Homo sapiens: one gene and its partners. The protein of the gene in region 4 interacts with the protein of the main gene of each other region in a pairwise test. Each region holds a gene or a part of one and is shown on either strand. Other genes may lie near its edges. The genes, in order: CCNI, WDR44, SDHB, MSRA, FARSB and ARID2.

What was found.
Region 1: the proteins of MSRA (region 4) and CCNI interact in a two-hybrid assay, tested with the Homo sapiens proteins (one large-scale study listed by BioGRID).
Region 2: the proteins of MSRA (region 4) and WDR44 interact in a two-hybrid assay, tested with the Homo sapiens proteins (one large-scale study listed by BioGRID).
Region 3: the proteins of MSRA (region 4) and SDHB interact in a two-hybrid assay, tested with the Homo sapiens proteins (one large-scale study listed by BioGRID).
Region 5: the proteins of MSRA (region 4) and FARSB interact in a two-hybrid assay, tested with the Homo sapiens proteins (one large-scale study listed by BioGRID).
Region 6: the proteins of MSRA (region 4) and ARID2 interact in a two-hybrid assay, tested with the Homo sapiens proteins (one large-scale study listed by BioGRID).

Annotation. Positions count from the first base shown.
Region 1 is NC_000004.12:77,051,174-77,056,740, forward strand, and holds part of CCNI (cyclin-I), read right to left. Parts: intron 5,151-5,567; coding exon 5,076-5,150; intron 4,930-5,075; coding exon 4,789-4,929; intron 4,208-4,788; coding exon 3,977-4,207; intron 1-3,976.
Region 2 is NC_000023.11:118,446,239-118,451,661, reverse strand, and holds the end of WDR44 (WD repeat-containing protein 44), read right to left. Parts: intron 2,770-5,423; coding exon 2,675-2,769; 3' UTR 1,701-2,674; downstream 1-1,700. UniProt on the Homo sapiens protein: Downstream effector for Rab11 which regulates Rab11 intracellular membrane trafficking functions such as endocytic recycling, intracellular ciliogenesis and protein export.
Region 3 is NC_000001.11:17,017,147-17,021,619, forward strand, and holds the end of SDHB (succinate dehydrogenase [ubiquinone] iron-sulfur subunit, mitochondrial isoform 1 precursor), read right to left. Parts: intron 1,813-4,473; coding exon 1,735-1,812; 3' UTR 1,576-1,734; downstream 1-1,575. UniProt on the Homo sapiens protein: Iron-sulfur protein (IP) subunit of the succinate dehydrogenase complex (mitochondrial respiratory chain complex II), responsible for transferring electrons from succinate to ubiquinone (coenzyme Q).
Region 4 is NC_000008.11:10,421,292-10,424,791, reverse strand, and holds part of MSRA (mitochondrial peptide methionine sulfoxide reductase isoform a precursor), read right to left. Parts: intron 1-3,500. UniProt on the Homo sapiens protein: Has an important function as a repair enzyme for proteins that have been inactivated by oxidation. Catalyzes the reversible oxidation-reduction of methionine sulfoxide in proteins to methionine.
Region 5 is NC_000002.12:222,616,857-222,622,423, forward strand, and holds part of FARSB (phenylalanine--tRNA ligase beta subunit), read right to left. Parts: intron 2,882-5,567; coding exon 2,789-2,881; intron 1-2,788.
Region 6 is NC_000012.12:45,904,206-45,909,772, forward strand, and holds the end of ARID2 (AT-rich interactive domain-containing protein 2), read left to right. Parts: intron 1-728; coding exon 729-873; 3' UTR 874-3,832; downstream 3,833-5,567. UniProt on the Homo sapiens protein: Involved in transcriptional activation and repression of select genes by chromatin remodeling (alteration of DNA-nucleosome topology). Required for the stability of the SWI/SNF chromatin remodeling complex SWI/SNF-B (PBAF).

The DNA of each region.
Region 1 (5,567 bases), on a different chromosome or scaffold from region 4:
TCCTGAATATTTTCAATTCACGGTTGGTTGAATCCAGATGCCAAACCCATGGATATGGAGAGCCAACTGTACCTCGTTTAATGAAATGTTCTTTAGCAAATGAATGATATTTATTGGCCTAAAAAGGTAAAGGTACCACAAATATTCTAATGCCTTGGTCACTGGGCATAATAAATGCCATGGCAGAATCAATACTATGGCAGAATCCTAAAAAGACATGTATTTAAGTAAGAGGAAGACTATGTCACTATAATCTTTCTGTGTGAAAAAACGAAGTAAATAGAGTTATATTTTAGCGGTGGGAGACTGACAAGAAATGATAGAGCTAAAAGACCTTAGAAATTATTCAAAACAAAACCATCCATATGAACTCCACTTCCACCCAAGTCCCAAGTAAGTCTTTTCTCCAAAATAACATCAAAATAAATTCCTTCTAATCTAGTACAATCTGAATTTGTTCTATAAGACACCAAAATAATTTGTTCCTTCTTGAGATCCAGTGGAAGAAACAAAACAAGCACATATACTGGAACTACCAAAACTCTCGACACCAGACAAGTACTCTAATGGAGTTGATAAAAAGGACTTAAATGAACTCTAATTATAAGGTGTCAAGAGAATATGTATTATTTTTTATAACAATAAATGACATAAATGGTAGGTCCAGATGGATCCAGGTTTGATGAACAGCATGAAGCACTGAGGAACCTGCTGGAATAGTCTGACCACAGCCACCTTCAAAAAGAACCAGGAGACTGGTGGGGAGGGGTCTGTTTTTTTGTTTTTTTTTTTTTAAATTTGCTTCTTTTTACTTTTAGATGGTACATGTGCAGGTTTATTAACTAGATATATATTGCATGATGCTGAGGTTTGGAGTACAAGTGATCCTGTCAACCAGGTAGTGAGCACAGTACCCAACAGTTTTTCAACCCTTGCTCCCCTCCCTCCCTCCCCCTTCTAGTAGTCCCCAGTTTCTACTGTTGCCATCTTTATGTCCGCGTGTACCCAACGTTTAGCTCCCACTTGTGAGAACGTGTGGTATTTGGTTTTCTGTTCCTGCGTTAATTCACTCAGGATAATGGCCTCCAGCTGCATCCATGTTGCTGCAAAGGACATGATTTTGTTCTGTTTTATGGCTGCACCTACTCTAGTTTTAAACTAGAACATGTACTTTGACTACTGCCCAGCTAGGAACTACAAAGACCACCACACTAATCTAGGTAGAGTTAACAGCCTGAGTTTATAAGGCTAAGGAGAGAAAGAGGTTTAGCCATCCCAGAATGGTGACCAACAGGTGGCGCAAGAGCTTAAGGGGGTGTAGTGGGAGGTTAACAGGGACAAAAGGAAGATTGCCTTTCAAACCTGGGAACACTCACCATACTTTGTCTCAAAGTGGGGGCTCAGGCAGAACTAGTGAGAGTGGCCTCCTCACAGCACGGTATGTCTGTGATGGACTCTCCTCAAACCAAGACACTGGGAATCATGTCGCAAATAATTTTGGCATGATCTCATCAATCTGATGCAAGACTTTCCTATATTAAAACCAGAAAACTAGGAAGAAATCTGATATTGTGGCCTTGTCACACGTCTAAACACAAAGATATTAGACCTGGTGTTCCCTACCTGAACACAGCAAACTTAGCAAAAACAGAAATGAGTCCTAAAGAACTAGGAGCCATCCATGTTTGGACCACATGGGTTGGTGTTAGAGAACTGCTAGAACAAGTCCCAAAAGTCTCTACCAAGATTTATGACCTTCCTTTTCTTCACTAACTTCCCCACTGCAATTATATACTACATGGGGCATATCTCTTAAAAAGAAAAAAAATTCACTGTATTTCCAGTTTTCAAACTACGTCCAAAGACTACCTACATAATATAATCTAAACCTACACTACATAGGTAGATTTCTAGCTATGGAAGGGAAAACGCTATGTTGAGTGGAGATCTGCCCTTAAACACAAGTATAGCTCCGTTCTTCTATTCTATATTCTGGGATTGTGTGTGTACAAGATTTTCTTTGGGGAAGGGGGACTGGGAAAGGGTTCCACTTCTAAAACAAATTATGAAAACCACTGAACTAGAATTTTTAAGGTTTGTGTGGTATGAAAAAAAGCATTGGTTCTTTTAAATCACTACTAAGTAGCTCTACACGGCTCTAAGAAAGTCTCCAGTTCCCTACACCAGAGCTATAAAATAAAGGAGGTGAATGAAATAACTTCTCCAAAGATTCTGTCAAATCCCAGGTTTGCAATACTCCTTCAGCTAAGAAGAAAAAAAAGTTTCAGTGAATACTCTCTTCCTCTAGCACCAGAAAACTTACAAAAGAGTATCAGATTTTCCAGTGTTTTTCACTAGGAAAACATGATCTCAAAGCTACAGAATACACATGCTATTTACAACATTATTATTTATGCTTCAAAATCTGTCCTCTGACACTAACACTTTAAAGCAATCTTTTTCTGTACTATCTTGAGAGTAAGCACAGAGAATAAGTCAGAAGGCATTTAGAGAGATGTCATTTGTTCCAATAAAAATAATGTAATGTAGGAGGTTTTCTATTAAGCCTATTCCTCTACTTCACAGTCTAATGTGAGTGATTAATATTCAACTTTTCTTTCTAACACTCCAGGGTGAGCAAAGTAAATTTTCTGTGTCATATTATTCATTTAAATGGTGGTTTATCATAATTTCTAAAAATTCTAAGTAGCAACTACCTCCTAGGATTTATTCTCATTACAGCATTTAATTATTTTAATCTAAGACAATTAAGATATCCCTTCAAAACAAAAAACAGCCCATGTTACACTACATAGGTAGATCTCTAGCTAACATACTGCTCTGATCATCAACCTTTTTATGAAAAGACTGAGCTCCCCTCTGCTCACAAACTAGAGCCTAAAATTCTTGGAAGCACTGACATACTTGTTTAAAAAAAAAATTATTTTTTTGCCTGGTTCATTTTCTTCAGACATACTTCTTAAAATGTTTGCTATAAGATCAATTATAACTTTCTTAGAAAAACACCAAATTCAACTATTATGTTTTTCTTTTATAATAATCTAAATTTTTAGCTCAATAACTGCAGTTCTTTGCTACAATTAGTTTATTGCAAAATGTTAAGCTTAGAATTTCACAATCTTCTAAGTAAAATCCAATAAAACAAATCAGAATAACTACTGTTAAATAAGAATAAATAGCCATATAAAGGGAAAGTAGGTTCATGAGTCTTTTATGGATTCAGGTGGCAGGAAAATGGTCTGCAGCAGATCTAAACTCGGTAAGTTCTATTTGGTGACATGAATAGAACCAGTAAGCCTTCTCTCAAAGTAGTTGCTAACATACAGCACTCTCACCAACTTTCCATTTGAATGAGAATTTTCTCCACTGAACCTTTACATTTTACTTAGGTAGTTGATAATTTATCAACCTATACATTTTATAATAATCTGTAGATACAAGTTACAAACTAATCTTAGGTAATAATGGAACTGCCAGGGAAAAACCTCTTTCAGAAAAGTGGCTTCTACCTGCCAGTTTGGTATAAATACTTCACTTACTAGCCAACAATAAATTATTTGCTTGTCTAAAAAGCAACTTATTCTAATTTTTGTTCCTGACATCCGTTATAAAATGAGTGAAGTAAAGAAGTACTACATTAAAACCTACAGATGTAGCTAGGAAGTTTCTTTACAAAAAACTAAAGGACAATATGGTATTGACAATCTTATGAACATTTTAGAATTCTTAAAAATAAGAGAAATGGTTAAAAGGAATCTTAAAAATACTATATAAGTTTTATATGAAAAAAAGAGATCACCTAGCCCGTAAATTTAAAATATATACTTTACTCTTGTCTACTCTTAAGAATGGTTTGCCATTACAACATGAGAAATGTCTTTTAGTTTGGTAACTCTATGTATTCCAATAATAGAAAAACTTAAAAAGAACACTATTTAATTAGACTGACACCTACCTGTGCTTTCTGAAGCAGTTCAATTGTAAGAGAAAGCCAATCAGGAATGAGTTTCTCCATTTCCAGACTAACCATGGCCAGAGCAAGCATGGATCCTCTGAATTGCAGAAGTTGGTTGCAGGCCATACAGTGAAGTAGTTGCTTGGTAAGGACTGCCAAATGTTGAGATGGGCTCAATTTGGGCAAACTGAAAAGTAACTGAGGCCTAGTTGACACTGCAATGGCATGGAACTGAAAATCACAAGAACATCATTTTAACTTTATTTAAATATCTGGGAAATTACATATAGAAATTGATGCAACCTATTCAATTTCTTTTTTTTTTTTTTTTGAGACAGAGTCTCACTCTGTTGCCCAGGCTGGAGTGCAGTAGCATGATCTCAACTCACTGCAACATCCGCCTCCTGGATTCAAGCAATTCTCCTGCCTGCCTCAGCATCCTGAGTAGCTGCGATTACAGGCGCCTGCCACCATGCCCGGCTAATTTTTGTATTTTTAGTAGAGACAGGGTTTCACCATGTTGGCCAGGCTGGTCTCAAATTCCTGACCTCAAGTGATCCGCCTGCCTCAGCCTCTCAAAGTGCTGGGATTACAGGCGTGAGCCACCGCGCCCAGCCTAACCTATTCAATTTCTAAGTCTGCGAATTAAGCTTCAGTGATATGACATATATACTAATTTATAATTTTTCCTTGGATATCAAGTTTTCTTTTTCCTATTTCCAGTACAAAATAAATGAGTAGGCAATCTATTTTTTAATTTACTGAAAACTACACACTCAAATAAGAAACTAAAAGACTTCAGGTATATTTACAATATGAAGAAAATCCAATGGTGTGGCTGTGTGAAGATCCCAATTCAACTTATCCAGAATAATTCTCTCCATTCTCAAAATTTCAGATGAGGAACATCCACAGAAACTGTCTCTTGCCAATACCTTTAGTACTGGAATTCTCTATCCAAAGCAAAGGGGAACAGGGACAGGGAGAAAAGGACAGAAAAGAAACTCATTTATGATTTTTGTTTTAGCAAACGAAGCAAGTTAATAAATGTGGAGAGAAATTTTCACGGAAGAAACATTATCTTGAAAGGATTTATTACCTCATCTTCCTCAACAGTCTTGGCAGCTAGGAAAAAACAGCTGATTGCAATACAACTCAAGTATTTTGGATGAGCCTAAAATTTTGAAGAGGGAAAAAGCAACTTTAGTGATTTTTCAAAAACAATTTAACTTTTTGTAACTGTTTTAAAAACCTAGATATGCAGATGAGACAGGTATACACAAAATACTATGGAATTCAATTAATGTGACTGCCACTCATTACTTTTTAGATCAGAGCTAACTTTAAGAACAGGAAAGAAAGTTTATTAAAAAGCTTTAGAGCAGTAATGAAAGGAAGGAAAGTACACTTGCAAGATCAAGTGTGTCTAGAGCTAACTTTTTTTTTTTTTTTTTTTTTGAGACGGAGTCTTGGCCTGTCGCCCAGGCTGCAGTGCAGTGGCACGATGTCAGCTCAGTGCAAGCTCCGCCTCCTGGGTTCATGCCATTCTCCTGCCTCAGCCTCCCAAGTAGCTGCTACTACAACGCCCGCC
Region 2 (5,423 bases), on a different chromosome or scaffold from region 4:
CCCAGCACTTTCGGAGGCCGAGGCGGGTGGATCACCTGAGGTCGGGAGTTGGAGACTAGCCTGACCAACATGGAGAAACCCCATCTCTACTAAAAATACAAAATTAGCTGGGCATGGTGGCGCATACCTGTAATCCCAGCTACTTGGGAGGCTGAGGCAGGAGAATCGCTTGAACCCAGGAGGCGGAGGTTGTGGTGAGCCGAGATCGTGCCATTACACCCCAGCCTGGGCAACAAGAGCAAAATTCCATCTCAAAAAGAAAGCGTTTCCATATATCGTCTTTTTTTTTTTTTTTGGTCTGAGAGAGTACTCACGGATTTGCGAGAGGCAGCAAGAAATGTACATCTGTTGAGTATACCTACTGGTTAGGCACCAAGCTTTACACATACATGATTTCTTAGCAAATCTTTGCAATTTAAGTTAGGTATTCCCATATTACAGATAAGGAAGTAGTAGTAATGTAGGATAAATAACTTGCCCAAGGAATGTGCTAACGGGAAGGAAGCAAATCCAAGTTTACCTGACTCTAGAACCTGTGATCTTTTTTTTTTTAATAATACCATATCACTCGTTATAGAGAATATCTAAAACTCATTTTAAAGAGAAATAGTGTTCTTTTTTTCTATATATTTTGATGCTACCTTTTAAATTCAGTGTATTCATATAGCAATAACAAGTGTCAGTATTATGCTTTTTTTTTTTTGAGACAGAGTTTTGCTCTTGTTGCCCAGGCTGGAGTGCAATGGTGCGATCTTGGCTCATCGCAACCTCCGCCTCCTGGGTCCAAGCGATTATCCTGCCTCAGCCTCCTGAGTAGCTGGGATTACAGGTGCCCGCCACCACGCCCAGCTAATTTTTTGTATTCTTAGTAGAGATGGGGTTTCACCATGTTGGCCAGGCTGGTCTTGAACTCCTGACCTCAGGTGATCTTGGCCTCCCAAAGTGCTGGGGTTATAGGCATGAGCCACCACGCCCGGCCAGTATTATGCTTTTAAGCTTGCATCCCAACTCGTTTTGTCTTTTTGGTCAAGTAACCACATAAAACCTATCACGAGATAGTCATATAATAATACCCTGATTATCTGCAGTTAAAACAATCAACACCACAGCCGACTACAAGTTCTCAGGCAGAAGTTAGTGAAAGCCAAGCTGCCTCAAAGAGCTGAAGACATCAAGTTTTAAAAAGAAACACTGGATCAATCACAATGCCACCCAGACCTTGAGATTAAAGAAACTGTGCCTGGTTTTTAGAAAGCCAATGGCATAACAATTCAGTCAGGGAGAGTACAGGAGAGTGAGGAAGCCAAAGCAACCAGAGAGATGAGGAGAGGGGAGGGGGAAGGGTAGAGGGAGAAAGCACAGCACTGGCAAGAAGAAAGCAACAAATAATATGTAATTTACTAGAAAGCCTAGAACACTCTAAGACCGTGCTAATCAACAAGGATATGTCCGTGGCTCCCCAACTTCTCACTTACATGCTGAAAACAAATGCAGTAAAGAACATATAAGCATATAGATGAATTCTTAGCACTGTTCAATTTAAAGCTAGAATTAAAAAAATTTTAAGGCATGTAACTAATGCATTATAATTTAGGGATCTAAAATCTGGTCTTCTGTTGCTAAAATTTAAATGATTAAAACAAGAGTTTATTTTTCTTGCATTCCTTGATTTACTGAAGTCAATTAAAAATAAAGTCATGTTTAAACAAGTGTTGGAGACCAACTTTTAATAATACATATTTAATTTTCAGAAACATATGCTAACCATCAACAACATGATCAGGGTTTCATTGCCCCAGATGTTATTTCATTGGTACATTATATTGATATTTACAAAGGCTTTCAAATTCAACAACACAAAACAAAACAGCTTAATTTTTAAAAACTACAATGCTTTAAAAAAATGTAAACAGTTTAATTTTTACATTATTGTAAAAAAGAAGACTCACTCCTTAATGTGGCTTAATTTTTTTTTAAGTGAGCAAAGCCTGGTGCTCATGGATAAAGAATGAAAATAATTCTTTACATAGAAACATTGTGCTCCAGTGTGGCAAAGAAAAAAAAATTATATGTACACATATAAAGAAAAGAATCTTAAGCCCACAATTTAGACCACAAAAAAATCTTGTCCCCAAATTGAGAAATTTATAAAAACCATTTACATATGGTTGTTGACCTACTGGAAACCTATATACCATTTTCAAAACAATAACTCAGTCAAAAGATACCACTTTTATTAAAAATGAAATTTTGTGCAAAAAAAAAATTGTTTAAGCTAGAAACAAGACTATCCCCCCTAGTAAGAGGCCAAAAGAGCCACTGAAATAATTTAACTCTGTTAGATTTAATGCATGTAACCAAAAGGCACATACATGTGATTAATATATTAATATCTTTTCATGCAGAAACTTGTGCATGTTCATAATTATACAACGAAAACACAAACATAACAAAACATAAAGCCTAATGTTTGGCAATGTTATTCTAGCCATATTCCTTTCTACTCTATCAGCCCAGGGTTTCCTAGATCATTAACACTGCCTCTCAAAAAATATATTATATTTGAACAACTTTCAATAAAAATTAAAAAAGTATGTTAGCCTGGAACACTATTTTTTCAGTTTTGATACATATAGAAACTTACTGATATGTTTATTTTAAATGCCATTTCAAATTAAGATACATTTTTTCTTTTATTAACAAACACTTTGATTGCTCCAGTGAAGTCAGCAGAGAGAAGAACTTCTGTGTTATCTGTCTTCATAATACCTTAAAAGTATAAAAAATAGTTTTAAGTTGATTTTTAAAGGAATATGAAGCCTGCTGCCACAATTATCACATGCCCATGACCCTCCAGCTTCAGGGGAGAAGATCATCTCCCCACCTTTTCAGTCTCCTTTTCTGGCTGGCTCCTGTAATTCTTTCATTCTGCTGAATCTCTCCTCTGCTCTGAGGCTCACTTTCACTTACCTTGTCTTAGCTGGTCTTTCCCTGGCTTGAGGATATTACAGTCTCTTGGGGCCTGGATGCTTGGACCTATTCCTAGGCAGCCTAGGCATCTAAGTCATCTAATGCTTCATTGCATGGCAAGAAGCTAGTGTGTCATTCAGCCCCAGGACTGGAGTGCTGGCAGAATCGGATCAGCTGGGCAAGTCTGTTGCTAACAGGGGTGTCTAGCGAGGTTGCCAGTAAGGTTTATTGTATAGCAGACATACTGAAACTGCCATGAAATGAAGTACACACGTTTGCTGTGTGAATGCTGACAGCACCTTTTGCCATATGGTCCTTACTGAAAAGCTATATAACTATGCTGAATGGCATAAATGCTTACCTCTTACATTTGCCAGTTGCATAAAAGCACTTAATAAAAAAATTCAGTGTTAACTAACTCTATTATACATAGGTGAAAACTGAGATTTTAATTTGAGATTTAAAAAAGAAGAAAATAATCCAAACTTTAATTGGAAAGTTGTGGACAGGATGAGTCACACAAAATGGTTTCACTTAGATGTGCTAAAAACATATCCTAAGCCTTTGAACATTCCTTTACCACCCTTTTGGCATATCTCACAGCAGTGCTGTGCAGTAGTAGCAGCAGCAAAGAACTTAGGAATATGAGAAAGGATAGAGAAGAAAATAATTCACCATACATATAAAATGCTTTGTAAGACACAATAATAATGAAAATGATAACAATAATGCCTACTACATGCCAGGCATTTTGCTAGGCACTTTTACACATACAAGTATATATATATATATATATATATATATATATATATATATTTTAGATAGAGTCTCACTCTGTTGCACAGGCTGGAATGCAGTGGCACCATCATAGCTTTCTTGTAACCTCATACTCCTGGGCTCAAAGGATCCTTCCACCTCAGCCTCCCTACAGGCATGCGCCACTGTGCCCGACTAATTATTTAATTTTTTGTGAAGACAGGGTCTTGCTATGTTGTCCAGGCTGGTCTCAAACTCCTGGTCTCAAGTGATCCTCCTGCCTTGGCCTCCCAAAATGTTGGGGTTACAGGCATGAGCCACCATGCCCAGCCTATACATGTCATATCTAATTCTTATTGAAACTCTATAAACTAGGTTATCATCATTATTTTACACATAAGGAAAATTGAGGCTTGAATTGCCAAACACGTCAGGAACAAAGAGAGAGGGGAATTGAATATATTTTGTGATCCCACATTTTGGGTTTAAGAGAGCTTATTCTTAGACTACACCTACATGGGTACAAAATGACAAACACAAATCTGAGTACAATCCACTAAAATTTGTGCCTCTTAAAAAAGGACCCAGTTAGTTAACTGAACCTTGTTAATGTGGTATATTTTTGAGAAGTTAAAAAAAACCCTGTACTTTTTACTTTTCCTCAAATTGTTTTAAAAGCTAGAATTTCCTGTGGAATATGCAGGGGAAGTATATGGAATGTAAAAAGGTAGCACTGGGGAAAAAAGAAAAGAAAAGAAAAAAAGGCCAGGTATGATGTCTCATGCCTGTAATCCCAGTACTTTGGCCAAAGTAGGACTAACCTTTTTGAGGCTAGAAGTTCGAGACCAGCCTGGGCAACATAACGAGAACTCATTGCTAGCAAAAAGAAAAAAAAAAAAAAAATTAGCCAGGCATGGTAGTACGTGTAGTCCTAGCTACTCGGGATGCTGAGGCAGGAAGATTGCTTGAGCACAGGAGTTCAACGTTGCAGTGAGCTATGATTGTACCACTGCACTCTAGCCAGGGCAACAGAGCGACACCATGTCATTCATTCATTCATTCATTCATAAGTTAAAAAAAAAAAGAAAAAACGTAAATGACTTAAGTTAGAAGACAGAAGCTGGATGTGATTCTGAGAAGGAAAGAAAAAGAAAACAGACAGCAGTTAAACAGGCATTTAGTAAAGGTTTAATCATTCTAACTTGGTTTATTTTTGTATCTTGTACTGAAAGAAATGCTAGACTGAAGTTCATCTTTGTTATCAAAATTTTTCTTCACAGACAGAAGGAAAAGTGTCATGAGTGGAGTAGATAGTCCAAATAATACTACAAAAAAATTACTTGAGATTAAAGTACTTGATAACTTTTTACCATTCAAATACTTTAGAAGCACTCTTTGTACACTGTATCTATTCCTGTGGCTTTATGACCTGTTTGTAATCTGTAGCATGAGACAATACAGTCAATAAACTATTATGCAATCGATTTAAAAATTAAAAAAGAATCATATATATATTTTTTGAGTTGGGTGTCCTTCTATGTTGCCCGGGCTGGTCTTCTATGTTGCCCGGGCTCAAGACCTCCTGCCTCAGCCTCCCAAATACCCGGGATTACAGGTACATACCACAACGCCTGCCATATATATATATTTTTAGACAGAGTCTTGCTGTGTCACCCAGACTGGAGTACAGTGGTGCA
Region 3 (4,473 bases), on a different chromosome or scaffold from region 4:
TTGGGAGGCTGAGACGGGCGGATGACGAGTTCAGGAGATCAAGACCATCCTGGCTAACACGGTGAAACCCCGTCTCTACTAAAAATACAAAAAAATTAGCCAGGCATAGTGGCGGGCGCCTGTAGGCCCAGCTACTTGGGAGGCTGAGGCAGGAGAATGGCGTGAACCCGGGAGGCGGAGTGCAGTTTTTTTTTTGGGACTCCGTCTCAAAAAAAAAAAAAAAATAGCTGCTGGCAGACTATAGGATACCCCTTTATTTTTAAAATCTTTTTTGGTATGTTAAGAAAAAAAAGAGACAGGGTCTCACTATGTTGGCCAGGTTGATCTTGAAGTCCTGGCCTCAAGCAATCCTCCCACCTTGGCTTCCCAAAAGTGCTAGAAGCCACTGTTCCAGGCTTTTTTTTTTTTTTTTTTTAAAGGAATGGGGTCTCACTATGTTGCCCAGGCTGGAGCGCAGTAACTATTCACAGGCGCAATCATGGCAAACCATAGCCCCGACCTCTTGGGCTCACGTGATGCTCCCACCCCAGCCTCCTGAGTAGCTGGATTAGGGGCACACGCCACAGCTCCTGGCTCTATGGTACCTTACTTTTGAAGGGAGAAAGTTTTATATATGCTGCATAACTGTAATAACGTAGAGTGTGGAAGGAAATGTCTAAGCTATCAACGGGATGAGTTTGGAGGAGCTTCCACTTTTACTTTCCCCCTTTCTCCTTTTTTGCATTGCTTTTTTGTTTTGTGGAGACAGGGTCTCACTCTGTTGCTCACACTGGAGTGCAGCGGTGTGATCTCGGTCACCGCAACCTCCACCTCCCAGGCTCAAGTGATTCTCCTGCCTCAGCCTCCCAAGTAGCTGGGATTACAGGCACGCACACCCACTGCCCAGCTAATTTTTGTATTTTTAGTAGAGACGGGGTTTCACCACGTTGGCCAGGCTGGTCTTGAACTCCTCACCTCAAATGATCCTCCCGCCTCAGCCTCCCAAAGTGCTGGGATTACAGGCGTGAGCCACCACGCCCGGCTGTGCAGTGAGCATGCCAGCCAAGGCAGCAGTGCTGTGGAGTTGATGTTTGCAGTGAGAGGCCCCACGAGGTCATTTGTGGAACTAACTGGATTCACAACTGACCAGGGTCATTGCTCTGTGCTGGAGGAATCTCAAACCTGGCCTCACCGACGTATCCAAAGACTTACCAAGATTTGGTTTTCAGTAATTCTGGTACTGAAAACTATAGAAACTGGGAAGATACAGAACACTAACACTAACTGAGTGTTCAGAATAAGTGCCAGGCATTCTCATACCAGATGAATGAAGTAGGCACAATTATGGATCCCATCTTACAGATGGGCGAATGGAGCAGCAAAGAGGTGAAGGAACTTGTCCAAGGTTGTCTAGCTGGTGAGTGGCAAAGCTGGGAACAAGCTGCAGGCCCTGCTGATGTCAGTTCCACGGCTCATCACCTCCTTCCAGCTAGGGTACCCCCACCCCCGCTCAGCTCTGAAGCCCTGTCCATCTCTCCAAGGACAAGGACTCCTGGCACCTTCACATTCCCCTGCGGCAAGTAAAGGAACAGGTTCTTTTTTTTTTGTTAATAAAGTAGAATAACATTTATTTCTTAAAATTTTTATTATACATGCTGTATTCATGGAAAACCAAGATCTTTAAAGGAACTCAAATTAGATATAAATTATGTTCAGCTCTGAGCTGGTTATAAATCATGTTTAGCATGGAAACAGTTAAACTGAAGCTTTCTTCTCCTTATAGGTTGCCATCATTTTCTTGATCTCTGCAATAGCTTTCCCTGGATTCAGACCCTTGAAAAAAGAGAAAAGAATCAATAACAAATGATAACTGAAACTGAAAGGGAAAACCCACAATCTTGGGTGAAACTCCTTCCTCAGCTGGTTCAGTGTCCAAGCAAGGTGAATGCAAATCAAGTCCCTCAAAACCATAGGGGTTGGGCTAAGGGCTCTCTTCTGTCTACCTTTTTTAACATTTGAAGATGGTCAGCTCCCTCTGGCAAGAGCTCTGCCACGTTGAATTCCTTCTTGTGTGGCTCACTCTAACAGGTAAACAGGCCCAGGGCAGAGGTGCACTCTCTGACTGCTCAAAGACACTCAGGGTAGTGTCTCTTCTAGGACTACAGGCCAATGTCAAAATCAGCCAGACATCTCTAAATCTTTTACATCATCATTATTAAATAGGCAGCAGCAGAAATCAGCATATACCAGCTCTCAAAAGTATGTGGAAGAAACTACCCTCTCTATTAACCCTTTGTAAAACCATGATGATTTCAACTGGCCAATACCATTGGTATTAGCTGCAGTTTGCCCCTACAGCTGTTAACATCTGCTTTGCAGGAGGCACAATAATTAAACCCACTGAATGCCAGCTTCATTGAAGTAGAAAGTAGGAAGTACTTTACCAAGTACTTGCTTTTACCAAGCAAGTACTTGGTAAAATGAGACAAGTACTCATCTGACGTTAGTGAAGGTTCCCCTCATTTTAGAAGGATAAGTCTACCCCCCTAAAAAAGTGTTGTGGAAAGAAAGAAGAAAAGGAAAGAAAGAAAAGAGATCTTGAGAGAAGAAGAGAAAGAAAAAATATATATTTTTTTGACAGGGTCTTGCTCTGTCATCCAGGCTGAAGTGTGATCATAGTTCACTGTGGCCTGGAACACCTGGCTCAAGTGATCCTCCGGCCTCAGCCTCTCAAGTAACTGAAACTACAGGTGCGTGCCACCACACCTGGCTAATTAAAAAAAATTTTGTTTGTAGAGATGGGATCTCACTATGTTGTCCAGGCTGGTCAAAAAGACACTCTTCATATACCAACATGGGATAATCTCCAAAATATAGTGGGTGAAAAAATACAGATAAATGTGATATAAGAAAGACAGAAGAGGACACATATGCATTTGTGTGCAGCATAAAACACCTCTGAAGTTCACACAAGAATCTGACTTCTAGGGAGGTGGCTGGGTGGAGTGGGAGGGAGAATTTTCACTGTATATCCTTCTGAATCTGGATCTACCTGTGTATTTCCGGTCCCCACAGGGTCAGTAAGGGTGTTTAGACTTAGAAGGTTGGTACATACCCAATCCATGCAGGAAGAAAGAGCACTGGATGGGGAGGCAGACGGCCTAACTCTAGTCCTACCTTCCCACTGACCTGACAGTGATCTGGGGCGAGTCACTCCCCTCCCCACCTGGGGCTCAATTTCCCCATCTGTATAAGGGGATTAAACTTGATGGTTTTCAAGTCCCTTCCAGTTTCATGATCGGCCTATGTCTATGTCTCAGTCCCAACTTCCAGCCCTGTTTTACAGAAGGGAGGGCAAGGCACAGAGAACCTGTTCTTGGCTGTCTCAGTTGTCTGCTGCACCCATCCCCTCCATGCACAGGTTTGTGACCAGGAATGCACCTTAGAGTCACTCGCAGAGCTTCTGAAGAAACACACAGCCAGGCCCCACCACTGAAGATGCTATCTCTGTCTCAAACAAGCCCAGTACTCATGTTTTTTTAAAAAATAACATAAGGTGACATTTATTGGGTGCTTACTATGTGCCAGGCACTGTTCCAAGCACTTTTATAGCATAACTTGCCTCAGAGGTCAGTAGCTATTCACAGGCACAATCATGGTAAACCACAGTCCTGGGGACAGGACCCAGATGGAAGCCCAGGCAATAGGGAGCTGAAGCCTGTGGGCTCCCCCAGCGAGGCCACTGGAAACACAGAGGGTTTCCAGGCAAAAAATAAGTGAATTCTACAGCTTGGATTTCATGTTTTCAAACACACAGTGTGATCTTTTTTTACGGCTAACTGGCCACCCTACAGTTTTCCACCTTGCCGCCCACTGACTCACTGCAACTTTTGAGTGAAATCACCCACAGTCTTTGCTCGGAGGGCAGCCGTGTTCTGAACCACACAGCCCTAGCCCTTCCCTGCCCACTGGGCAAGGCTGACTGGACCAGGGCTGACACCTGCTATGGTTTGAATGTGTCCCCAAAAGCTCATGTGTTGAAAACCTAATCCCCAATGCAACAGTATTGAGAGGTGGGACCTTTAAGAAGTGATTAGATTATGAAGGCTCTGCCCTCACAAATGGATTGCCATTATCATAGGAGTAAGTTCCTGATAAAAGGATGAGTTTGGATTAGTCAGGTGTGGTGGTGTGTGCCTGTAGTCCCAGCTACTCAGGAGGTAGGAGGATCACTTAAGGCCAGCAGTTCCAGGCTGCAGTGAGCTATGATTGCGCCACTGCACCCCAGCCTGGGCAACACAGTGAGACCCTGTCTTTTAAAAAAAACAGATGAGAGGGGCCGGTCGCGGTGGCTCACGCCTGTAATCCCAGCACTTTGGGAGGCCAAGGTGGGTGGATCACCTGAGGTCGGGAGTTCGAGACCAGCCTGACCAACATAGAGAAACCCTATCTCTACTAAAAATACAAAATTAGCCAGGCATGAGTGGTGCCTGC
Region 4 (3,500 bases):
ACCAGGGAGCCTGGGAGATCTGGGCCTGCCCCAGCACCTCCCCTAACCCAGGAGGGGGCCTCTCCCTGGCCCCGAATCAGAACACCCCAGGCCTTTCTCTCCGATCCAACCCACCCCGGGCCCTTCTCCCCGTCCAGTTTAGCTCCGCCGCAGACCCTTCTCCCTGATCCCACTCCACCCTGGCCCCTTCTCCCTGTCCCTCTCCACCCCAGGCCCTTCTCCCGAATCCCACTCTATCCCGAGTCCTTCTCCCCATCCCACTCCACCCCAGGCCCTTCTCCCCGATCCTATTCCATCCCGAGTCCTTCTTCCCGTCCCACTCCACCCCGGGCCTTCTCCCCATTCCTGCTCCACCCCAGGCCCTTCTCCCCGATCCTATTCCATTCCGGGTCCTTCTCTCCATCCCACTCCACCCCGGGCCTTCTCCCCATTCCCGCTCCACCCCAGGCCCTTCTCCCTGATTCACCCCTCAGCATCGTCTCCCTCACCATCTTCTACCTTTTCAGCCTTTCCTTCCCCTCTGCGCACTATTTTCTTTGGTGTTGTTCATTTTTACCTGTTTCCCGAATGTTCCATTCCCTTGCACACGATCTCCAAGGAATGTCCTTTCCTCTTTTCCATCGCAGGAACTCCTATCCATCTCTGAGGACCCAGACCAAATGTCCCCACCTCTATGAAACCTGCCCGCTTCTTGAAGGCAGAAGCTGCTCCACATACTATGTTCGCGTGGCATCGCAATGCCCGACAGCGCTGATGACGCTGCATTACAAAAACCCTTCTGTTCTCCAAGCCACTTCCACTACCCAGGACTGTCTGTGTCTCTCCCTCATCTCGGGGCTTTGTGCACTGTGTGCAATTAATGAATGAATGAATGAATGAATGAGAAAATGAACTATGGATTCTTGGGATCTCCTGGAGATTCTCTCTGCTTCTGGATTCCACCTGGGTCCCTGTTGCTACCTCAAGACCCAGCACCTCCTCTAGGGCCTGGGAAGGAATGGTGGGAGGGAGAAGGGGACGACGGACTCAGGCAGCCACTTTCCGTGTCACAGAGTCCTGGCCAGTTCCATGGGCAGGTTCAGTCTTTAGATGGTGGCCCTGTGGTGCTGTGTCCTTGCAGGGAGCACAGAAGAATGCCTCTCTGTCATCCACGGCTCCTGAAAAAGCCCATTTGCTCTTCTGCAGGGAGAGTGGGGTGGTGCAGGAGCAGGGGGAGATAGGGGACGAAGACTGTCACCTCTGGGTTACAGATGGTTCCTCTGCTGCCACCCCCCCTCCCCGCCCCACCCCAAGTCCACTGGTCAACCTGGCACCGGGGCCAAGCTATGCAGGTGCCGGCATGGGTGCATGCCAGTCTCCTGAGCCCCCTTCCTGCACTATCAACACACACCAGGTGTCCCAGTCAGTGATGGGGCAGGGGTTCCTAGGTAGCGTGTTACTGATCATGGCTGACACACCAATGCTTGTGGTCATCTACTTTTCCTTAACGAATTGGAGCAGATGGAACGCCTTAGATCCGGATCTCGGTTTTACTGCCTCTCATTGGCCCTCAGGAGCAGGCAGGAGAGAACTGTCAGGAGAGCTGGAGAGGAGGAAGAGGGTGGGGACCCAGGTAATGCGCAGCCTGGTGGCCTCTCCCCTCTCCCGTCGTCCATGGGGAGGACCCATAAAAACGGCTGACCATTCGTGACTGCCGAGACAACTGCCCACATCACCTACTGAATCTTTAGGCGCCTTCCAATAAGGAGGCTGCACCCGTGACAGTGGGATGTCACCAGAAACACTGTGCTGGACAGAGGGAGGCAGGGCAGTGGCGCTCCGGCCTCAAGACCCAGGTGCCCTCAGGGGACTGTGCTCATCCTCCAGGCCCTATGGGGCCACTTTTGGGGATGGAGAATGAGTTCAGGTCATGACGGACTTGCCTGGTTGAAGTAACTGCCTAGATTGGTTCAAAAGCCTGGAAAGAGGTGCTCTTGCTGCTCAACCCCAGGGCCTGCCTCTGCATAGGGTAGCCCCGGCCCAGCTCCCTACTGCAGCCTGTGGGGCCAGGTACCCCCAGGGCTGTACTGACAGCCAGTCTCACATGCCCCTACCACGTTCCACTTCAGGGGAGGAATGACCTGAGCCTAGCTCCCGGCAACTTTTCTCTCTCTTACTGACTCCAAGTATCTTGACTTTTGCTTGTGGCATTTTTTTGTGTGTGTGTCTTGCTGACCTTTTAGAAAGAAGTCAGCAGGACTGCATACAGTAACACATGTGGGGCGACACCTGGCCCAGGGAATTTCTGGAAGGTCACCTAACAGAATTGGTCATTTGTGTTTTTCTCACAGACTCTTCCTCAATGACCCCAGGAAGCCTCCTGTGCCTTCCTTCTGTTGTCATTTTCTCCTTGGACTCAGCTTTTCTGCCTGTGAAATGGGCCCCTTACCTAGTTCACTGTGCTAGGACGAGGAATGCAGAGAGGGCACAGAAAGTGCACCATGCCCTGCCTGGCTTTTCTGTTGCTGAGACAGGGTCTTGCTCTGCCACCCAGGCTGGAGTACACTGGTGCAACCATGGTTGATGGCAGGCCCTACCTTCTGGGCTCAAGCGATCCTTGTACCTCAGCCCCTCCAGAAAAGCAGGGCCTACAAGTGCGTACACCACCATACCTGGCTAATTTTAATTTTTTTATAGAGACAGTGTCTCCCTATATGTTGTCCACGCTGGTCTCAAATTCCTGGCCTCAAACGATCCTCGCATCTTGGCCTCCCAAAGTGCTGGGATTACAGGTGTGAGCCACGACACAGCCTGCCTGGCGTGTTTTAACTACTGCAGAGTACTGGCTCCATTTCCCAAAAATCCCCACCCAGGGGTGAAAGCTAGCCTGCCTATCCTGCCCTCCTTAAGTAGCCCCCATTTCCACATTCCCCCATGGAATCCCCATTTCTATGGCTGAGCAGCAGATCTCTGGGGCAGGAAGGCGGGTAGGCATGTGTAAGTTGTGATGGAGCCCCCAGCCCCCTAGGCCTCATCCACCTCAGCTCGGTCTCCAGCTCCAGCGACTCATAGGAACACCACAGATGCACGAAAAGCAGCCGGGTCACTCCTTATGGAAGGCGTGCCAGCCGGGCACAGCAGGTCCCATCCGTCCTTCTAGGGCGGCCAGTAAAGAGCCTTTCTGGTAATAAATGTAATGAACATGTGATCATTCTGCTGACTGCAGCCTGCTAACAAGCTTACGATTAGGATCACCGAGATTCTCCAAGTGCCCGAGTGTCTCAGCCTATTACATGGAGGTGACACGCTCTCATACCACCCTGGGAAATGCAGGATGGCTCCTGGCAGCACAGGTGGCAGTGGGCACCAGTGGGCAAGGTTAGAAAGGCATTGAGACCCAGAGCCCAGAGTGGAGACCAGGACCCTGTGTTTGTCCAGAACAACAGTGTTTCCAAAGGGCTTCCACCCTCTATTCACGTGAACCTTCCATTGACTAAAATGTAGGCTTCTTATTCCTGTTT
Region 5 (5,567 bases), on a different chromosome or scaffold from region 4:
ACCTCTTAGCCAAATTAATGATGGTAGGACTCACCTGTTGGTAAAGCAAGGTAAAATATAGAATCTGTTAGGTCAAAAGACAGGCACTCTCTTTGATCTTTAAGGTACTTTATGCAGAAAGATTGATTCTTTTTTTTTTTTTTTTTTTTTTTTTTGAGACGGAGTCTCGCTCTGTCGCCCAGGTCGGACTGCGGACTGCAGTGGCGCAATCTCGGCTCACTGCAAGCTCCGCTTCCCGGGTTCACGCCATTCTCCTGCCTCAGCCTCCCGAGTAGCTGGGACTACAGGCGCCCGCCACCGCGCCCGGCTAATTTTTTGTATTTTTAGTAGAGACGGGGTTTCACCTTGTTAGCCAGGATGGTCTCGATCTCCTGACCTCATGATCCACCCGCCTCGGCCTCCCAAGAAAGATTGATTCTTAAGTGTGCTAAGCCACAGCTATTTATAGTGACATTTAATGCATTTCTGATTATTTTCCTTCCACTTATATAAAATAGAAAAGACAGGATGTAAATCCTGAAGAACATAACAGTTACCACATCTTAAGAAATCTATCAAGCTTCACTAGGGGAATACAAGGCGAAGAGAGAGGTGGGGAGCAAGAGCTGAAAAACTACCTATTGGGTACTATGCTCACTACTGGGTGACGGGTTCAGTCACACTCCAAACCTCAACATCATGCAATATACCTTTGTAATTAGACCCACGCATGTACTAACTGAATCTAAAATAAAAGTTGACAAAAGGCCAAGCGAGGTGGCTCACACTTGTCATCCCAGCACTCTGGGAGGCCATGGTGGGTGGATCACTTGAGGCCGGGAGTTCGAGACCAGCCTGTCCAACATGGTAAAACCCCATCTCTATTAAAGTACAAAAATTAGCAAGGTATGGTAGCACACACCTGTAATCCCAGCTACTCGGGAGGCTGGGGCACAAGAATCGCTTGAACCCAAGAGGCGGAGGTTGCAGTGAGCCAAGATCAGGACACTGCACTTCAGCCTGGGCAAGAGAGCGAAGCTCTGTCTCAAAAAATAAATAAAAATAAAATAAAGTTTTTTAAAAAAGTAATCAAGCTAGATAAGTAAAACTGGGAGAAAAAGGTACATTTCGAATAAGCAAAAATCCATTAAGATTTACTGAAAAATCATTCTATGCAAATGAATTTGAATACCTCTTATTAAAAGGAACACCATGGGCAAACTTTAAAAGCAATAGGAAACTAGACCTCAGAAAATAAAATATAACAACTCATTACTACAATCCTTCCAAAATTAGTATAAGGATTCTTCAAAGTTCTGACCCTAAGTATAGATAAAGAATTCATATACTTGATATATATTACCAATTAGTTCTTTAATTAGTCTAGCTCTAATCTACAACATTAGCAGGTGGTTCTATAGATAAACTTTAGAATTTTTAAATTTAGTTTTAAACACTTTTAGAACTTTTAGAATTCTTTTTAGAACTAACCCAGTCCCTTATTTTTGTAGAAGTAAAAACCAAAATCCAAAGAAACTATTTCAAATCAGAATTCAGATATTATTTATAATAGCATTAACCTTCTTTAAAATATAACCTTCCAGTTCTAAGATTCCCCTTGATTCTAGAAGAAGACATGATTTTCTCTAAAATCTAGGTTAAAAAACATACAGACTTGCATATGCAAGAGAAACAGCACAAGAGCTTATCAGTATAAAAGAGAACTATTTAAAGTTATTAATAAGCAAAGATGTTATAATCTTAAAATGCCCTCCCTTTATAGTTAATATCCTAGTCTATAACACAAATCACTTAATACTCAATATTAAAGCAGTATCATTCTCATTTAAATATTCCTAACCTCTAAATGAAACTGCCAATAAACTTAGACAATTACAATAAAAGACATAAGCAGCACAGTCAAGAACTGATATAATGGGCAATTTCAAAGTGAATGACTTACGAAGGAACTGGGAACAGGTTTTGATTCATTTATTACAAATGAATGGAAAAGAGATGAAACCTGGCTAGGTGCTCATGCCTGTAATCCCAGCACTTTGGGAGGCTGAGGTCACTTTGCGGATCACTTGAGATCAGGAGTTCAGAACCAGCCTCGCCAACATGGTGAAACCCCGTCTCTACTAAAAATACAAAAAATTAGCCGGGCGTAGTGGCGGGCGCCTGTAGTCCCAGCTACTTGGGAGGCTGAGGCAGGAGAATGGCGTGAACCCGGGAGGCGGAGCTTGCAGTGAGCCGAGATCCCGCCACTGCACTCCAGCCTGGGCGACAGAGCGAGACTCTGTCTCAAAAAAAAAAAAAATTTAGCCAAGCATCGTGGCATGCACCTGTAATCCCAACTACTTGGGAGGCTGAGGCAGCAGAATCGCTTGAACCCAGGAGGCAGAGGTTGCAGTGAGCCGAGATCGTGCCACTGCACTCCAGCCTGAGCAACAGGGCAAGACTCTGTCCCAAAAAATAAAAATTAAAAAAAAAAAAAAAAAATGAAATCTGAAAATAGTATTAAAAAATCAATTATGAAATGGAAAGTTCAGACAAGAGAGATTGGGCCAGATAATACAAAGCAAGTAAGAACCCAGTATGAAGTTAATCAAGAAGATATTATTTTTAAAAGTGTAAAGAATTTTTGGCAGCAAAGCACGTAATAACCAACTATAAACTTACCCAAGAAGATATTATTAAAAAGCTCTAAGATTTCACCATCTCAGGTATAATAACTGAAGAGACTTTTCCTAACTCATGTACTACCTCTAGGTTTTTACATGAATTCTCACCTACTTAAAATTCTTACCTGAAATTCAGCTGTTTTAGGATTACTTATGTGGACTGCCTTTGTTGCAGAGATATCCACACCTAGTTTATCAGCAATATCTTCTTGGGAGCACTGTGAAGTACACACAAAACAGATTAATATGGAAAAGCAATTACTTAAGTTTAAAATAAAAAGTAATGCTGTAAGTCAACTTCTAAGAGCAATTTATATTCTCTACACATATCAGCAAGTTAAGAATAGGCCTGGTGTGAGCTGAAGTAAATGTAATAATAATAATAATAAAAAACAAACAAAAAAAGAATAAGCTAACAATAAATACACATCAATCTCAGGCCCATAGCAGATGGAATTTAACATTAATACTTCTTTCACAATGAGTCCTAGCCATCATACAGAGCTAAAGTAAATTTTTCACATGGAGATGGTATAAACTGTACTCGGGCCCTTCCTAAGCTAGTTTCCCATTTACCTTTCCAATCTAATCTCCCATGATGCCCTAGCCATTCCCTAAACCTTATGTTTCCCTACCTTACCTGAAATGTCCTCCCAGCCTCACCTGCTACCATTCCCTAAGGCTGACTTAAATGACCTCTCTTCCATAATATTCCTAATGACTCTAGTCAGAAACTTTCTCTCCCTCCTTGGTATTTCATGACTTTCCATTTTGACTACCATTATAACCCTTGCTAAATCCATACTGACTTGTGGCAGAACAGTAGGACTGACAACAGAATTCAAGTGACTGGAACTCTGCCCAGTGTTCTTTACTGTATCACTTAACTTCTGTGCACATGCCTGAAACTCATAACAAATAAACTGCTGAGTACCCACCAATCGAAGAGAAAGATGCTTGCCACCCTCAGAAACCAGCATTGTAGGCAGAAGTTATGAAATTAAAAACTCACTGACGATTAGATACATCAAGTCTAATAATAAATGATATAATGAGATAATGCAAGTATGGTGCCTGGCACAGAGTAAGCACTCAAAAAATACCAACAATGATGATAACTGACAAATCATTACTAAGGATAAATTATTATCATGTATATTAATGCTAGCTTTTTGAAAAAGCATTTAAAACGTAACACAAAAACTGATGTACCATCAGATTATTGTACTATTGTCCAATGTTAGGCAATATTGTTCATTATGCTGTTCTACAACTAGTTTTCAAAGGCTAGTTGGCCTGTATTTCACTTATTAAAACAAAATGATACACATCAACTGAAATGGTAAAAAGAATTCATTTCATGTCAATGTCAGTTCTAGTGATTCTTGCCATGCTTTCTTGAGAAAGATCCTGAAGCCACATCCAGCCATAGCAGAAAACAGCTCCCGGATCTGCTACAGCTGCTGAGATGGAGAATGGTGACATGCACACTGGGGATAAGCGTTTTCCCCACAGCATAAAGAAGTTTTACAGCAAGACTTAGGTATAATGTGACTGATTAATTATGAAATGCAACTGACATGAAGCAATCTATTCTCAAATGAAACTAGTCCTCTCTGTGTAAAAGAAAAACACTCTGCAGACACATGGCAACGCAGCTGTGTATCTGAGTGAACTTGTATTTTATCATGGCAATGGATAATAAGGGATAGTGACAAGAGGCAATTTAAATTAAGCTACCCTGAAGTGGCAGTAGTTAGTACACAGTAAGAAACTTTTTTTTGTTTGAGACAGAGTCTCACCCTGTCGCCCACACTGGAGTTCAGTGGTGCAATCTCGGCTTGCTGCAACCTCCACCACACCCGACTAATTTTTGTATTTTTAGTAGAGATGGGGTTTTGCCATGTTGGCCACACTGGTCTCGAACTTGTAGCCTCAAGTGATCCGCCCGCCTCGGCCTCCCAAAGTGCTGGGATTACAGGCATGAGCCACCATGCCTGCCAGGAACTTTTTTAATGTTAATATTTATGTGTTTATTTTAATGTGTTAGAAAAATACAACAAGTAAATGAACCTTATAGTTTTTACAGATATTATTCCTATAACAAGGCTGAAGTACATAAGCCAACTTAAAAGTGAGCCAATTTAAAAGAAAATATTACAACTACTATGCAGATATAGCAAAAATCAATATGATGAAGTGTGAATTATTTACACTTAGAAAGTCAGAGACTAGGCTTAAAAAAATGGCTGTTACTCTTGTGCAAAACTGGATTTAACAACATAGACCATCTTTGCTCAGCGATGCTTAGGCTTGCCTATAAACATCTTTATAAACATCTTTAATGTTGAAATTCCTACAGGAAAATTTAGTACAAATCTGAAACCCTCTAGGAGCTCACTCCTTTCTCTTCCCCCCAGTGATAAACATTGAATGTATTAAAGTGACTTTGGACAGCTAAACAGACTGTTTCTAACATCCCTGGTGTGACAGTTCAGTCACAGGCCTTGGATGCAGACAGGCATGGGCGGGAATCCCTGATCCACAGCCATGGCGTAGGACAAGTTACTTAAATTAACTGCTGTGAAAGACAGGAATGCCCACTTCACAGGAGTATACTGAGAAGAAATGGAATCATGTACACAAAGCCCTTGGCACAGGGTAAACATTCCCTGCAGAGCAGCCACTAGTCAAGACTCGGCCTCTGTGCTCCTTCGAAGACACATGAGGCTCTAAGGTCACAAAATCAAACTGGCAATGGATATTGTAATAAGTATAAAGTATAAGTATAAAAAGGATAAAGTAATAAGTAACTTTTTTCAAACTGGCACCACTAATATAAAAGGGCAGGGAAAAATGCATACCCAAGTTTTAACAGCAGTTGTTTCTGGGGAGGAAAAGAGG
Region 6 (5,567 bases), on a different chromosome or scaffold from region 4:
GGCTTGGTTTCACTTAATGAAGACTAAGAAGCTTTAATTATACCTACAATATAATTTTAATTTCATGTCATCCCTTAAAAGCAACCATTTTGTTCCTCTCCAGCTGTTTTCTGACACCATTTTCTAAATTTTCTAGAAACATGAATGAAGATTGAAAAAGAATTTTGCTGTGCAGCCTTCCATATTTAGAAAGGTACTATGGAGAGGCTGGGCGCGGTGGCTCACGCCTGTAATCCCAGCACTTTGGGAGGCCAAGGCGGGTGGATCACAAGGTCAAGAGATCGAGACCGTCCTGGCCAACATGGTGAAACCCCGTCTCTACTAAAAATACAAAAATTAGCTGGGCGTGGTGGCACACGCCTGTTGTCCCAGCTACTTGGGAGGCTGAGGCAGGAGAATCACTTGAACCCGGGAGGTGGAGGTTGCAGTGAGCTAAGATTGCGCCATTACACTCCAGCCTGGCAATAGAGTGAGACTCCTTCTCAAAAAAAAAAAAAAAAAAAAAAAAAGGTACTATGCAGAAAAGGCAAACAGTAATAGTCAGCCTCAGTTTATCCTTCTAGTTGTTTCCCAGATGCTTCCCTCTCTTCCTGCAATACTATATTAACATTTACGGGGTGTGGAGCTATGTATTGTTTCTATTTTAGTTTTTAAACTTGCAAAATTCATGATAAAGAGTCATCGCTGTGACCTTGGAGACTGACAATCTTCTATATGTTTTTTTGCAGATTGTTAAAGAGACATGAAAATAACTTATCAGTGCTAGCCATTAGTAACATGGAAGCTTCCTCCACCCTTGCCAAATGCCTTTATGAACTTAATTTTACAGTTCAGAGTAAGGAACAAGAAAAAGACTCAGAAATGCTGCAGTGAAAAATAATTCCACTTACACAGTGGGGGACTCAAAGTCAGCCACATTTCACATACTGTTACTGAAGAAAGCACCAAGTCTTAATGGAACAAAGACCATAGAATGAATTATTTTATCTCCTCCCATGATGCTGAGAGGAAGCTTCGTATTCTGATCTCTGAGTGAATCCCTTTGTTCTCTGTTTAAAAAAATCTAAAAAGAAAAAGGAAAAAAAAAAAAGAACTGCTGTGGGATTGTCAACCAGCTTATCTGCAGGATGTTTCAGATCTGATAAATCCTGATGGAAACTGGTATGATCAGAATTCAGTACCATCCACATTGGAATATACATGGAATATTGTAAAACCTACATGAGCAGATGAAATAGAAGCATTAAATATTTTTATCTATATCCAAAAAGGAGCACATTTTTATATTTACAAAACCGTTTAAGCTGGTTTGAATAATTTAAAAAAGTTTCAGCACACCTATACCCCCGATCTCAGAGGGGGCCACCAATATCTAGCTATGGATCGTGTGTTTTGTTTAGAAATCAGTAGCTTGGTTTTCTTACTTGAGCCAATATATTTTCACTTATTTATTATCATAAAAATTTACCAGTCTGAATAGATCTTGTAAATATTTGTGAATAGAATGAATACCTTTCATGCCACTGCAGCCACTGGAAATACATTCTGTGGTGTCCTAGAAGCATTATTGGTAGGTTCTAAAGTTTTCTAGACTTTCCTGTCAATTGTAAGTAATTGTGATATATTCTATGCAGTGGATGAATGTTCTTTAAATTTGTGTAAATACTTCTGCAAAGGTACTGATGCTGTAAAGTCAAAACAGTTTTGTGGAACTGTGATTTTTTTTTCTTTTTTCTTTTTTTTTTTCTTTTTTTTTTTGTATTATACACCTTGTAGAACTCATTTTGCTGGCTGAAAGAGTATGGAATAATATATCTCATGTCATTTTTTAGAAGAAAAACTATTTGAAGGTATTTTTTGGTTTTCCTTAACATGTATCCACTGTAAACGTTTGTCGTGTACAAGCTCAGAGCTTGGACAGAATTTTTTGTATTTGTAAATTGGTTTAAATACATGGAATTTTATACAGGTTTTCTCCTGTGTTATATATGCATTATGTGCAGGTATGATATTTTCTTCACTACTTTTTCTATCTTAATATAGTGTGGAATTTTATTGTATTATTCTTCCATTCTTAATACTGTACCACATTCCTGCTCAGAAACTGCTCACTTCCTTAAATTGTCTTTTTTCCCCCAGCGTGAAATGTATCCATTTATAACTGCCTATTGCCTGTTCTATTAGCATCCAAAAATGTGGAAGGCCTCCCAACCACCATTTCTGCTGTGTCCTTAGGATGTGCAGTAAAAAATATAGACCTAACAGTTTATGTTATAGAATGGCTTTATTTACTTTGGTGACTGTTTATAGTTTTTAAATAAAAGACTGAACATTTTCTTGAGTCCTTCATTTCTGAGTATGCTTAAGACATCTTAAAAATATAGAGAGAATTCTAAATTCAGCTGAAGGCAAGGTATAACGGTCACCTACCTATTTGATTATATGTTGATTGATAACATATTAAATAGAGAACAAATAAGAGAGGTCCTTTACATGACAAATTTGCATGAAATAAGCAGATTAACCAAGTATTTATTTTTCATCTTGTTATAATGCAGAGCAAATGTAGAGAACAGCAAATGATTGATGCAGTTAAAGCTCAATATGCCTTTTTTTACTGGATACTGTACATTTGGCTAAAAGCTTTTATTGTTTGATGTTGTGTTTCTTGACTGTTTATTCAGAATCACAGTGTATCCAAATCTTCAGCTTGAATTTGGAGGCAGATTCTTAGAGTGAAAAAGCCTCAGTTTCCATATTAAAAATGTTTTAAATATTTTGATTGAATTAGTACCAATGTAAAATCTAGTTTCTTCCTGAAGGAGGATCCCTGGCGCTGTCCTGCCATGTCTCAAAGGAATGTTTGAGAAACTTCATCTAATATTAGTTATAAGGTTGTGGAATTTATGCTTGGCCCACCTTCCAAGACTGGCACTGCCCAACAGACACCGCTGAAATCATGTGGGTATCCCTAGGATGGCCTTCAGAGCCCTCAAACTTACAAGCACCTGGTAGTTGACATCATATGGGGAATTTTCTATTCACCGTACTTATCCAAAAATCTCTTTTAAAAAGTAAATTTGTGCAACAACGTTTATTTGAAAGATAATGTCTTCTCAAAATCAGAAACTGCAGTGGTAATTAAATTAATAGAAAAGAGAACAAACTGCAGGTTTAGAAAAATGGTTTTCATATTCACCATTCTTCCACCTCATTGAATTGCATGCTGTAGTTCTAGCTTTTCTGCTATAATATGTAAATATGACTGTAGCCTTTTAAGCTTCAGTCTCAGCAGAGAATTTCCTAAATGCGTTTGACCTAATGAAACTGATCATGGCTTCCCACTTAGGTTTTTCTTCTTATAGCTTTATAGAACTATATAATAATATGGACTTGCTGTGTAATGGAATTAAAGTGCTTTTGCACAATAAGTTCTGCAAAACCCTCTCATTCATGAAAAGGTGCTCCTTGCTAGACAGAAACTTGCTGATTTACAGTATTGTTATTTTTGTCTAAAGTTCTGTAAATACATGCTTTAATGTTATCTTTGAGAAATCTATGTAAATAATATAGTCTACAACATAGAGACTGTATAATTCTGTGTTATATATGTGCCTAGTGCTCTGTTGGCACTCAATAAATTTTAAGTAACAAAATTGATAATCATATAGCGAAGGCATATTTTTCTTCCAAGCTCAAGTCAGGATTGTGACTATATATTAATGAGACTCAGTAATCCAACCCACACCTGAGAACTCGTCTCATTACTTTATAGTCATGTCATGTATGTTTTTTTAACCATGAAATGACAATAAAATGATTTTTAAAATGAGAATGTTTTGGATAAGTGACTTCTGTCCTGATCTTAACCACTGCTGTTAAATACCAAACAGAGGAAACATGATGCAAAGCAGAAGCTGCTAAAGAGCAGAAGTGGAGCTATGGGGTTAACCACGTGGGACACCTGGCACTGTCACTGTTACCAAATAGTAAGTTAAATGAGAACAAAATCCAGTATCTATTAGGAAATTTTAGCCGATCACTTTCATACTGCTTGACTCTTCTCAGACTCATACAGCAGTCAGTCATACGACAACTACACTAGCCTTCTCCAGAGGCAACAAAACAAATGAAGACAGTACCACTGTCTAATTACATTACTACACTGGTATTTGTAACTCTTTCATTTCAATTATATAGCCTCATTTCCTATTGGTAAAAATTAAGTCCAGGATTGCCTTGTGTGTGGATAAGAAACACTAAGACACACTGGCATATACTTAAGTAGATCCATTTACTTTGATTAATAAGACTACATTTAAATATTAAAAGAAAAGGCTATTATTAAGTCAAGTCCTGGCTCCTGTGGATTTTAGTCTGAGATACAACCCACATTGTATACATTTATTTAAAACATAAACTGCCTTTAGAAAGTAACTTAATCAAAAAGTTAAATTATATGAAAAGCCTCATTCCCATCTGCTTCACCACCCGTGTCCCCCAACCAGATAACCACTGTTCACATTTCTTGAGTACATCTCTGGTGTTGATTACATACAAGTGAATTCAATATTTTCTCTTTTTTACACAAAAATATGTCATACCATAAATAATATGCCGTACTTTCTTGAAATTTTAATATTTTAAGTTTATTCCATATTGGTACATAGCTTTCTCATCCTTCTTACAGCTATACAATATAGTTTTCCATTGTATGGGTATACTATATTTAACTAGACCCCATATCGATGGACATTTAAATTGTTTCCAAAATTTAAGGTGCTGTTTTAAACTAGTCACTAATACTTTGCTGAACACTACTCTGTCAGGCACTGTGCTAAGCATTTTACATGTATTGTTTCAGCCTTCACAACAGCCCAATGTAATAGCTAATATTTCACAAGTGGGGAAAAGAGGGTTAAGATGAGTAAGTACCTTGACCAGGTTCTTAACAGCAAGTAAGTGGTTAAACTATCCAGCTCCTCTGAAGCCTAGTTATGAAGAGTAATTGGGAGAATTCTTTCCTCAGAGAGTCAGACTCAAGGCCAGGAGTCTGCTAGTATAAACACTATGTACCCCTAATTTTGGTGTGGATCTTTTCGTTTGTATTTGCCTCATTGTTCCTAGTATTTTCTTTCTTTGCATTTTGTCTTTTTAAGATTTTCCATAATTCTTCAGATTTCCCAAGTATTTCATTCATTAACTTGGCACCACTTTATACAGCCAGAAAAATTTTCTGGAAATACCCTTGACAAAGGGCCATTTCTAAGACAAATATTTATAGTAAGTTGAAACCACAGTTTCTAATCAACTATCCGTCTGGTGCCTAGTTCAAACAACCATCTGCTGACTCCTTTGGAAAGAGTCATACTCCTTAACAATAGTATGATGTTAATAGGATTTTCCCCAGCGTACACCTTTAAATCACCTTCAATGCACAATACTGTTGGAGTACCTATGCTGCTGCTTTGGAAGGCGGAGACATCCTGCTCTGAAGGTAGCCCAAACTTACAAATAATACCCAATACGATAAAAGATAAAAACATGTGCCATAAGGAAATTATAAA